Regions from separate parts of the Homo sapiens genome. Here region 2 is linked to region 1. Evidence: fine-mapped expression QTL. A gene starts in region 1. The other region holds a variant in brackets. All regions are shown on one strand. Distances are between the middles of the regions. Region 1 holds the start of NELFA (negative elongation factor complex member A). Region 2 overlaps POLN (DNA polymerase nu).

Evidence for each region. PIP is the estimated chance that this variant, and not a neighbour inherited with it, causes the effect.
Region 2: its variant is the best candidate, but not a certain one, in a credible set for the expression of NELFA in whole blood (INTERVAL, PIP 0.68).

What each region holds. Positions count from the first base shown.
Region 1 is chr4:2,006,488-2,010,878 of GRCh38, reverse strand. It overlaps NELFA (negative elongation factor complex member A), which reads left to right and starts at 1,905. Exons shown (of 11, transcript NM_005663.5): 1 at 1,905-2,129. The coding sequence starts at 1,920. LOC124900839 reads left to right here. Exons shown (of 4, transcript XM_047416543.1): 4 at 706-1,873. The coding sequence starts at 1,118. The coding sequence ends at 1,873. RefSeq lists a silencer at 1,155-1,534 and enhancers at 1,595-2,114, 1,722-2,222.
Region 2 is chr4:2,087,876-2,092,266 of GRCh38, reverse strand. The region is part of intron 20 of POLN (DNA polymerase nu); the gene reads left to right. It also overlaps the pseudogene LOC100419959. Among named protein-coding and RNA genes, the nearest start is that of NAT8L, 31 kb to the right of the region's middle. The variant T/C (reference allele first, on the strand shown) is at 2,298.

The DNA.
Region 1 (4,391 bases):
GCTATTATAAATAAAGCTGCTATAAACGTTTGCACACAGGTTTCTGTGAACAAAAATTTTCATTTCAACCAACTAATGTTTACGGTTCAATCATGATTTCACAACTTGAAGTAACTTTCACTCTTCTCATACTAAATTTGATATGTCGTCCACTGTTAAACTATTTCTTACCCTCAGATTATAATTATTAAACTTTTTTTTTTTTTTTTGAGAGGGAGTTTTGCTCTTGTGGCCCAGGCTGGAGTGCAATGGCAAAATCTCGGCTCACCGCAGACTCCGCCTCCCGGGTTCAAGCCATTCTCCTGCCTCAGCCTCCCGAGTAGCTGGGCTTACAGGCAAGCCATGCGCCACCAAGCCCGGCTAGTTTTGTATTTTTAGTAGAGACGAGGTTTCTCCATGCTGGCCAGGCTGGTCTCGAACTCCCGACCTCAGGTGATCCGCCCGCCTTGGCCTCCCAAAGTGCTGGGATTACAGGCGTGAGCCACCGTGACCGGCCTAATCATTAAACTTCTTTCAGCACTAGCCCCACTGATGTCACAACTTCACCCATTAGTCAATAACTTGTCTTTGCTGAATTCGACACTTTTGAATCATTTAAAAAATATTCTCTTAAATTTTATGTGCTATTTGCAATGTAACGGTTGTCGACATGACAGTTTTAAGTTTAATCTTTATCATCAACATTTTCTCTATCACTTTCTTCAGTTTAAGCAATCAACAAAACCACCGCTCCAGCACTGATTTGTAGCATTTGCGGGTTTCCCCCGTGTGACTTCCGCAGGACTGCCAAGTTCAAGCCGCCAGGGCCAGGGCACTGCTAGCAGCTGGGCTGAGCCCTGTTCTCCCGGCGTTCCCACCGCCCAGTGGCAATAGCTGTGAACGGCGGCAGGAGCATGGCAGTGGAACAATAAGGAAAAGATCTTTTAAAAAAAAGATATAATACAGAAGCCAAGCAAGGCGGCCCCGACCTGTAACCCCAGCACTCTGGGAGGCAGAGGCGGGCGGGCGGATCGCTTGAGCCCAGGAGTTTGAGACCAGCCTGGCCAACATAGGAAGGCCTCGTCAAAAAGACAAAAGGGTAAAACGAATTTAATAAAATGAAGTTTAACTTTTACTCATGTTTGTATCTAATGACAAGCTTTTAAAACTGAAAAGTTCACTACTGGCTCCTGCCTGGCGGCTCCAGCCCGACTGGGGGCCGGGGCCTCCCTGCACTGTGGGGTCACGAGTGCCCCTGGACAGCTCCCGAGCGCCCTCCGACCCGCATGCTCAGCGCAGCCCCGTCGGCGGCGCGCCACGGGCAGAGCGGGCTCAGCGGGGGACGGAAGCTCAGCGCTGCGACCGGGATCCCGCAGGCTCGCTCCGCAGGGCCGCGGCTCCTCTCCGTGCAGGTGCTGGGCCCGCGGGGGCGGGGCGTCCACACGGTCCGCGCCGAGACCCAAGCGGGGAAAAAGCGAAGAGCGGACAGCGGGGCAGGTGCCACAGGGAGCCTCCGCCCCACCGCGCGAGCAGCAAGTCTGCGGCGCTTGACACCTGCACTGCGAATGCCAGGCCGCAGCCCGGGCTCCCAAGACGCGAATACGCGCGCCTGCTCGTGACGTCATTTTTTGCGGTCTTCCCGAGAGCCAGCAGAGGGCGCCGCCATGATGTTTTACGGAAGCCGATAGTCCTTGCTCAGCGGCACCCCGTCCTTCCGGCTCTCGGCTTTGCCACAAAGCTTCCCGAAGACGCGGCCGCTACCCGGAGACGCGGTCGCCACCCAGAAGCGCTCTCCCGGGAAGCCCCGCTCGTGGGACCGCGCCACCTGCGCCGCCTCTGCGGCCCGCAGCCCGACGGGCGCCGCCATGTTGGGGTCCTAGCGAGGGACGCGTAGGTGTCTTCATAAGATGCCGGGGCAGCGGCGCGCGCTTTCCCCCAAGATGGCGTCCATGCGGGAGAGCGACACGGGCCTGTGGCTGCACAACAAGCTGGGGGCCACGGACGAGCTGTGGGCGCCGCCCAGCATCGCGTCCCTGCTCACGGCCGCGGTCATCGACAACATCCGTCTCTGCTTCCATGGCCTCTCGTCGGCAGTGAAGCTCAAGTTGCTACTCGGGACGCTGCACCTCCCGCGCCGCACGGTGGACGAGGTAAGGCAGGCGTGGCGCCCCGCGGCCCCCAGATTCCCAACCTTCCCACCTCCGACCCGCACACCCAACTCCGGACCCTCCTCGCTCCCTCCCCCAACCTTCCCATCCCCCTTCAGACTGTTAACCCCCCCGGCCCGCCCTCACGCCCCCTCCTCGCTCCTCCGAATACCTCCCTCCAGTCCTCACCTCCCCCTGGGTCCTCATCCCCCGCCTCGATCCTCATCTCCCACCTCGGTTCTCATCCCCACCGTGGGTCTTCAGGACCCCCCGCCCCTCCTCGCCCCCTGGGAATCCCCCACTAGGGTCCTCACCTCCCTACTTTTCGTCCTCACCCCTACCCAAGTTTTCACCTCCCCTGGGATCCTCAATCTCCTCCCCGCCGGGCCCCGGGTTCTCGCTACGACCCCCAGGTCCTCACTCCCCTCCCTGGGCCCCCGGGTACTCATCCCCACCCGCCCCCGCCTCCCCCGCCTTCGGTCCTCACCACCCTAATCCCCCACCGTGCCGAAGCGACCGACTCTTGGAGCGGGGGTGCGCCGGCCCCAGCGGGGTCTCCCATCGGGGTTTCCCGTCGGGGACGCAGCCCTGGTGACCTGGGCGAGGGCGGGGATCCCGAGAGAAACCCCCGCGTGAGGAAGGGGCGGCCTGGGCTCGGTAGCTCCAGTGTCCGCTGACTGGATTTTCTTGTTCTCACCTCGCAAAGACCCCGGCCGTCCGGAGCGCTCTGTGTCCGTTTTACTCTTTTCTACACGCCGTTTTGCGTCATTCCAATAAGTGGGTGTGTGAGGTTTGTTTTCTTTTTTCCTAAACTTTATATTGTATCGCTTTCCGTGCGAAATAAACCGAGTAGTTTTGCAGACTATTGAAGCCCCATGGTTGTTTAAACGTTCCTGGCTACTGATGTATTATTAGCTATTATAGGTTGTAATTGCTTTTGATTGAGATATGACATGTATGGAAAAGTGCATTTTTGTTCAGTTTAACGAATAATAATAGCATCGCGAGCCACTCCTGTGATCCTTACACAGGTGGAGAAGTAGAACCATGCCTGTTCCTTGGAAGCCTCCCACTGGTAATCACGGCCTTCTTCCTTTCCCCTTCCTCATTTTGGAAAGGTAATCATTTCTGTGCCATCTCCCCGGTGTGAGCAATTATTTATGCACCCCTAAATGGCACAGCTTGGTTGCCGGATTTGGAGTTAGTGTGATGGTATCATAGTGTATTTTGTGTGTGGCGTGCATGTGTCTTTTTGGTCGACGCCGTGACAGTTTCATCCACGTTGCAGCTGACTGCAGTTTAATTTTCACTGCTGCGTGGTATTCCTGTCTGTGAGCACGAGGCACTTTATCCATTCTGCCACAGTGACACGCTTAGCTTTTGTGCTCTTGTAAATCATCCCGTTACTACATTACGGTCATATGTTCAGGTGTTTGGAATCTTGGATTTCTCTAGGGTATAACATCTAGGAGTGGAATTGTGAGGATCATAGGATCATGCCAAATTATTTTTCAGAGTGTTTTGTTTTTGTGTTTGTGTTTTGTTTGAGACAGGGTCTGGCGCTGTCAACCAGGCTGGAGTGCAGTGGCACCATCGTGACTCACTGCAGCCTTGACCTCCTCACCTCAGATCTTCCCATCTCAGCCTCCTGAGTAGCTGGGACTACAGGGTTTCACCATGCTGCCCAGGCTGGTCTTGAACTCCTGACCTCAAGCAATCTGCTTGCCTCAGCCTCCTGAAGGGCTGGGATTACAGGTGTGAGCCATGGCACTCGGCCTGCTGTTTGGTTTTCTGCTTTGAGAATTGTATATTCAAATCTGCTTTTAAATTCTCTTTTTTCCCATTGTTTTGTAAGAGTGTCTTTTTTATTATTTATTATAAATGCTAGATATCAGTCCTTTTTCAGTTACAAATATCTCCCAGTTGTCCTTTGACTTTGACTTAGCTTCCTGGAATCCTTTTTTTTTTTTTTTTTTTTTTTTTTGAGACAGCGTCTCACTCTGTCACCCAGGCTAGAGTCTAGTGGTATAATCATAGCTCACTTTAACCTTGAACTCCTGGGCTTAAGCAGTCCTCCCTCCTAAACCTCTGTAGTAGCTGGGACTGATGCGCTGCCACCACGCCTGGCTAATTTTTGTGCATGTGTATGGAGATGGGGGTCTTACTGTATTGCCCAGGCTGGTCTTGAACTCCTAGCCTCAAGTGATCCTCCTGCCTTGGCCTCCCATAGTGTTGGGATTACAGGTGTGATCTGTGCGCCCAGCC
Region 2 (4,391 bases), 81 kb before region 1:
GCTTGCCTCCACATCCAGTCATCACGTGACCCACAGGCCTGTGCTGAGGGCACACCGCCTGGCTCAGTGCCTGTTCCCGAGGGGCTCGCACCTGTCAGAGGAGACACGGGAGGAGGCCTGGGCGCACAGCACTGTGCCATCAGTGCATCTGCAGGAGTCCCTGGTGCCAAGGGAGCCAGGGGAGGGACCCAGCCCAGGGAGAGTTGGGAGAGTCCAGGAGCTGGCCCAGAGCAGCAACACCCGAGCTGAGTTTTGAAAGCAGCGTAGGATTCAATGTCAGGTCTGTTCCAGCTAGACCAGCCCATGTTCCCACAGGCCCACTATGTGCAGGCACTTGCTCAGCCCTAGAGACATAAACAGGAGTGAAAGCCTGTTAGCAATATGTGTGGGGCAGAAGAGCACTCGGAGAAAAGGGAGTGAAGGGAGTGAAGACTGTCCCTGCTAAACGTCAAATTGTAGCGCGCGCACACACACACACACACACACACACACACACACACACACAGATTCACGTGTACCCACCGGATAGGGTTAGCCGTCTGTGGGAAGAGTCAAATTGTGTGTTCGTGTAGGATTTCAGAGGTATGGAGTACTTAGTGTCCCCAGCATGCAGATCTCTCAGGGCCTGTGTGTGAAACAGGATCAACGGAATCACAGTGTGGGGACAAGTTCTATGAAAAGAAGGAGCAGTCCAGCGGAAGCATGGGACAGAGAAGTCCCCACAGAGCCAAAAGCCATCCTGCTTGGGGAAGGGACAGTGGCCTTTGAGTGTGACAGTCCCACTGCTAAGGGTGTCCAAGGAGTGAGGAGCAAAGATCCAGGGCCTGGAAGGCCTCCCAGACCCTCAGGCTCCATCTCAGTCTCTCGTCCCTGCTGCTTGTGGAGCCACCACACCGTCCGCTCTCTTGTGGATGGGCTTTCTTTATGCCTGGGGACCGGGGCCACCTGCTGCCCTTCAGAGATCCCGACAGCTCCATAGAAGAAAGGAAAGGGATTCTCCCTTGGCCATAAGTATTTAGAAAGCAAGGCATGACTTCTGGTTATGGCCAAGTCGCTCCCATTGGAGCAGCCCTCACACAGGGATCAACTATAAACTGTGGAAAATGTATAAAAAGACAACTACCCAGAGGCACTGGGAAGTGACCAGAGCAACAGAAATTGGAGGTCAGCTGACACCTGGAAGAAAGGAATGGCACTGGTGAATTTCTCATTCTATAGACCCTCACCTGAAGGCAAACCTCAGTTGATGCTGTGGGGACAGAAACTCTGCTAGAACATACAATCCTACTAGCTTGAAGAACTGGAGGACAGAGTTCTGGACAACCAGAGGATCTGGAAAGTGAAATGAGAAATTCTAGAAAGAAGAGAGCCAGGAAATGAGGCCAAATTCTAGGTTTGAACTCTGCTCAGATCCTTGGCTGACCCCTAACTATGCATGAATGGGACAGACTTCAAACAACCCAGAAGCCAAGGCAAAAAGGACTGACCTGAGATTTCAGTGTTTTCCCACTACAGGGAGACAGAGTTTGATTTTAGCCAAACTAAGTGCCCCTTTAAAAATAGTACTCCTGAGCTGGCACCTTATCAGTATCTAAGCGGAGTGTTTTGGAAGGAGTTAAGGGGCTGTAGCAAACGCCCTCTCCACCGTCATGGCCCAGCATCGGAATGTTCGAGGCTGTGACTGCGATGAAGATCTTGAAGATGATGATCACCATGGCCAGTCTGTAGAGGATGATTCTTGTATTTTGCTATCAACAGCTGCTCAGTTTATTTATTCACAGCGTGACAAACCTTCCGTTGAGCCTATAGAAGAATACGATCATGAAGATCTGAAAGAATCTTTCAATTATGTTTCGAACCATCAGCTCAGTGGATTTAATCAAGCTCGTTTTTATTCATGCCTTGATCACATGAGAGAAAGTACTTGGAGATGCTGTGCCAGATGAAATATTGATTGAATCAGTTCTGAAGAACAAGTTTGATGTGCAGAAGCCTTTGTCAGAGGTTCTGGAACAAGATAGCATGTAGAATTTGAAGGACAAGAATGAGGGAAGAGTATCTACAGGAAAGATAGCAAAAGGTAAGGAGTCTTATTTTCTTCTTCTGAAGTTTCAGCTGATAATGTTCAAAGTTCTTATCCTCAGTTAGCAAATCATTTGGATTATAGTAGCAAACCCTTTGATTTTTCTAGCTCAGTAGGAAAATATGGATTATCTCATAATTCTTCAGTTCCAAGTCACTGTTTACTCCATAGGAAAAAGAAACTTGACAGACTTAAAAGTGAAAAGAAACCAGAA[T/C]CATGTAGGTTAACAAAAGAACTTTCACTAGCTAACTTAATTCCTGATATGTCAAGAGATTCCTGTGAAAGTCAGCCATCAGTCAGATTGTCATCTACAGACAGTCTGGAAAGTCTGCTTTCAAAGAACCTAGATGCTGATTTGTTGAGACTTCATCCATCTGAATGTGCTTCCAAAGATGATTCTGCATTCAAAGAAATACCAGATTTAAAGTCCATAATGATAAAGAGCACAACACTGAATAATTCTTCATATATTCAAAGTAATTCACTATCTGATTTTTAAAACATTCCAGTACAGGACAGTTTAGGAAGTTCAGATAATCCTTTGTGCTTAACTAGCTTGTTGGAAAATATGACTGTTGATAATTTAAATGCTAGTAAAGAAACTGAAGTTGGAAGTGTTTCTTTAGTTGAACAAAGTGCCAAGAATTACATTTTTAAAAATGATAATTTGCAGTTTTCCCAGTGTGAAAGTCCATCCCTAACTGAACTGTTTCGGGAACACAAAGAAAACAATATAAGCCAGTGCTTTACTTTGTCTGACCTTTGTAACCAGTCATCTGTCAGTTTCACAGATCTAAGTTTGGGATCCTTTCCCCTGTCACAATTAGCAAATCACTGTCAGTCTTCACCAGGAATATCAGAATTAACAGGATCTATGTTGTCATTGGCATTTCCTAAAGCTTCTCCCACAAGAGACCTTGAGAATTTGTCACTTTCTGAATTGATTGCAGAAACAATTGATGTATACAACTCTCAGATTAAGAAAGAGTCCTTTGAGGTCAGTTTATCTGAAGTGAGGTCTCCTGGAATAGATTCAAATATTGATCTTAGGGTCCTTATAAAAAAAACCCAGATTTTCTTCCAAAGCCTATAGTAGACCAATCCATTGCTCCTTCATCACGAACTAAAGTTCTAAGTTCAAAGCTAGGGAAGAAATCCAATTTTGCTAAGGATAATGAGAAAAACAATAAAGGCTGTCTGACTAGGAAACCACCTTTTTCTCTGTCTCGGACCAAGGCCGTTGCTGCTAGACCTTCAGCTTTTGCCTCAACACTGTGTCTTCGTTACCCACTAAAAAGCTGCAAGCGACGCACCCTTGACCTCTGTAAGACTTTTCTTTATAGTAGACAAGTTCAAGATGTAAAGGACAAAGAAATAAGTCCTCTTGTAGCGATAATACCATTTGACTTCAAATCAGCATCACCTGATGACATTGTAAAAGCTAATAAAAAAAAAGCATTTACTAGAGAATAGTAACAAAAGAAAACTTGATGGCTGTTGTACAGCTTTTTATTTTTAATTAAAGTCTTAGAGGATCACTTTATATTATGGGATTCAAATTGTGATTTTCATGAAAATTGTTGTAGATCAGTTGATTAGCTAATGCGTATTTTTGCACTGAATTTTTTTTAAACTATGTCTTCTTTCAGTGATAACAGGCTTTATTTAAGTTGGTAACCTATACTGAGTATATGTTTACAAAGTGGATATGGAAACTGGATGTTGTGAAATCAGACCTCAGATATTTTTGTTTGAAGCATTCAACTTTCTATGTTTTTTATGATGAAATATTTTTTTCTATGAGATATTTTTGTGCTTTGTTCATAAACGAAAATGCCAGCACTTGGAATTATTATAGTTTAGTGTGAAGATTATTCTTATGTGGCACAGCATAGTTGAGACATTATGTTTTAAAATACGATATAATTCCTAGTTTCATTATTTTTCTGTAGATAAATACTAAAATTTTTCTATTAGAAAATCTTAAAATTCCTGACCTTTGAGAGTACTGTGGAGATTGTTGAAATACATTTTTAATGATAATAAAATGAAAATCTTTTAAGGGACCATGTAAATATAGAAGTTGGATTTATATGTGAATTATTTTTATACATTTTTAAAAACCATTTGTCCTAAATAAACACTTCAAAATAAATATATAAAAAGTGTAAACAAAAAATTAGTACTCCTTAACCAGGCACAGTGGGCATACATCTGTAGCTACTCAGAAGGCTGAGGCAGGAGGATTGCTTGAGCCCAGGAATTGAAAGCTGCAGTGAGCTATGATCATACCATTGCCCTCCAGCCT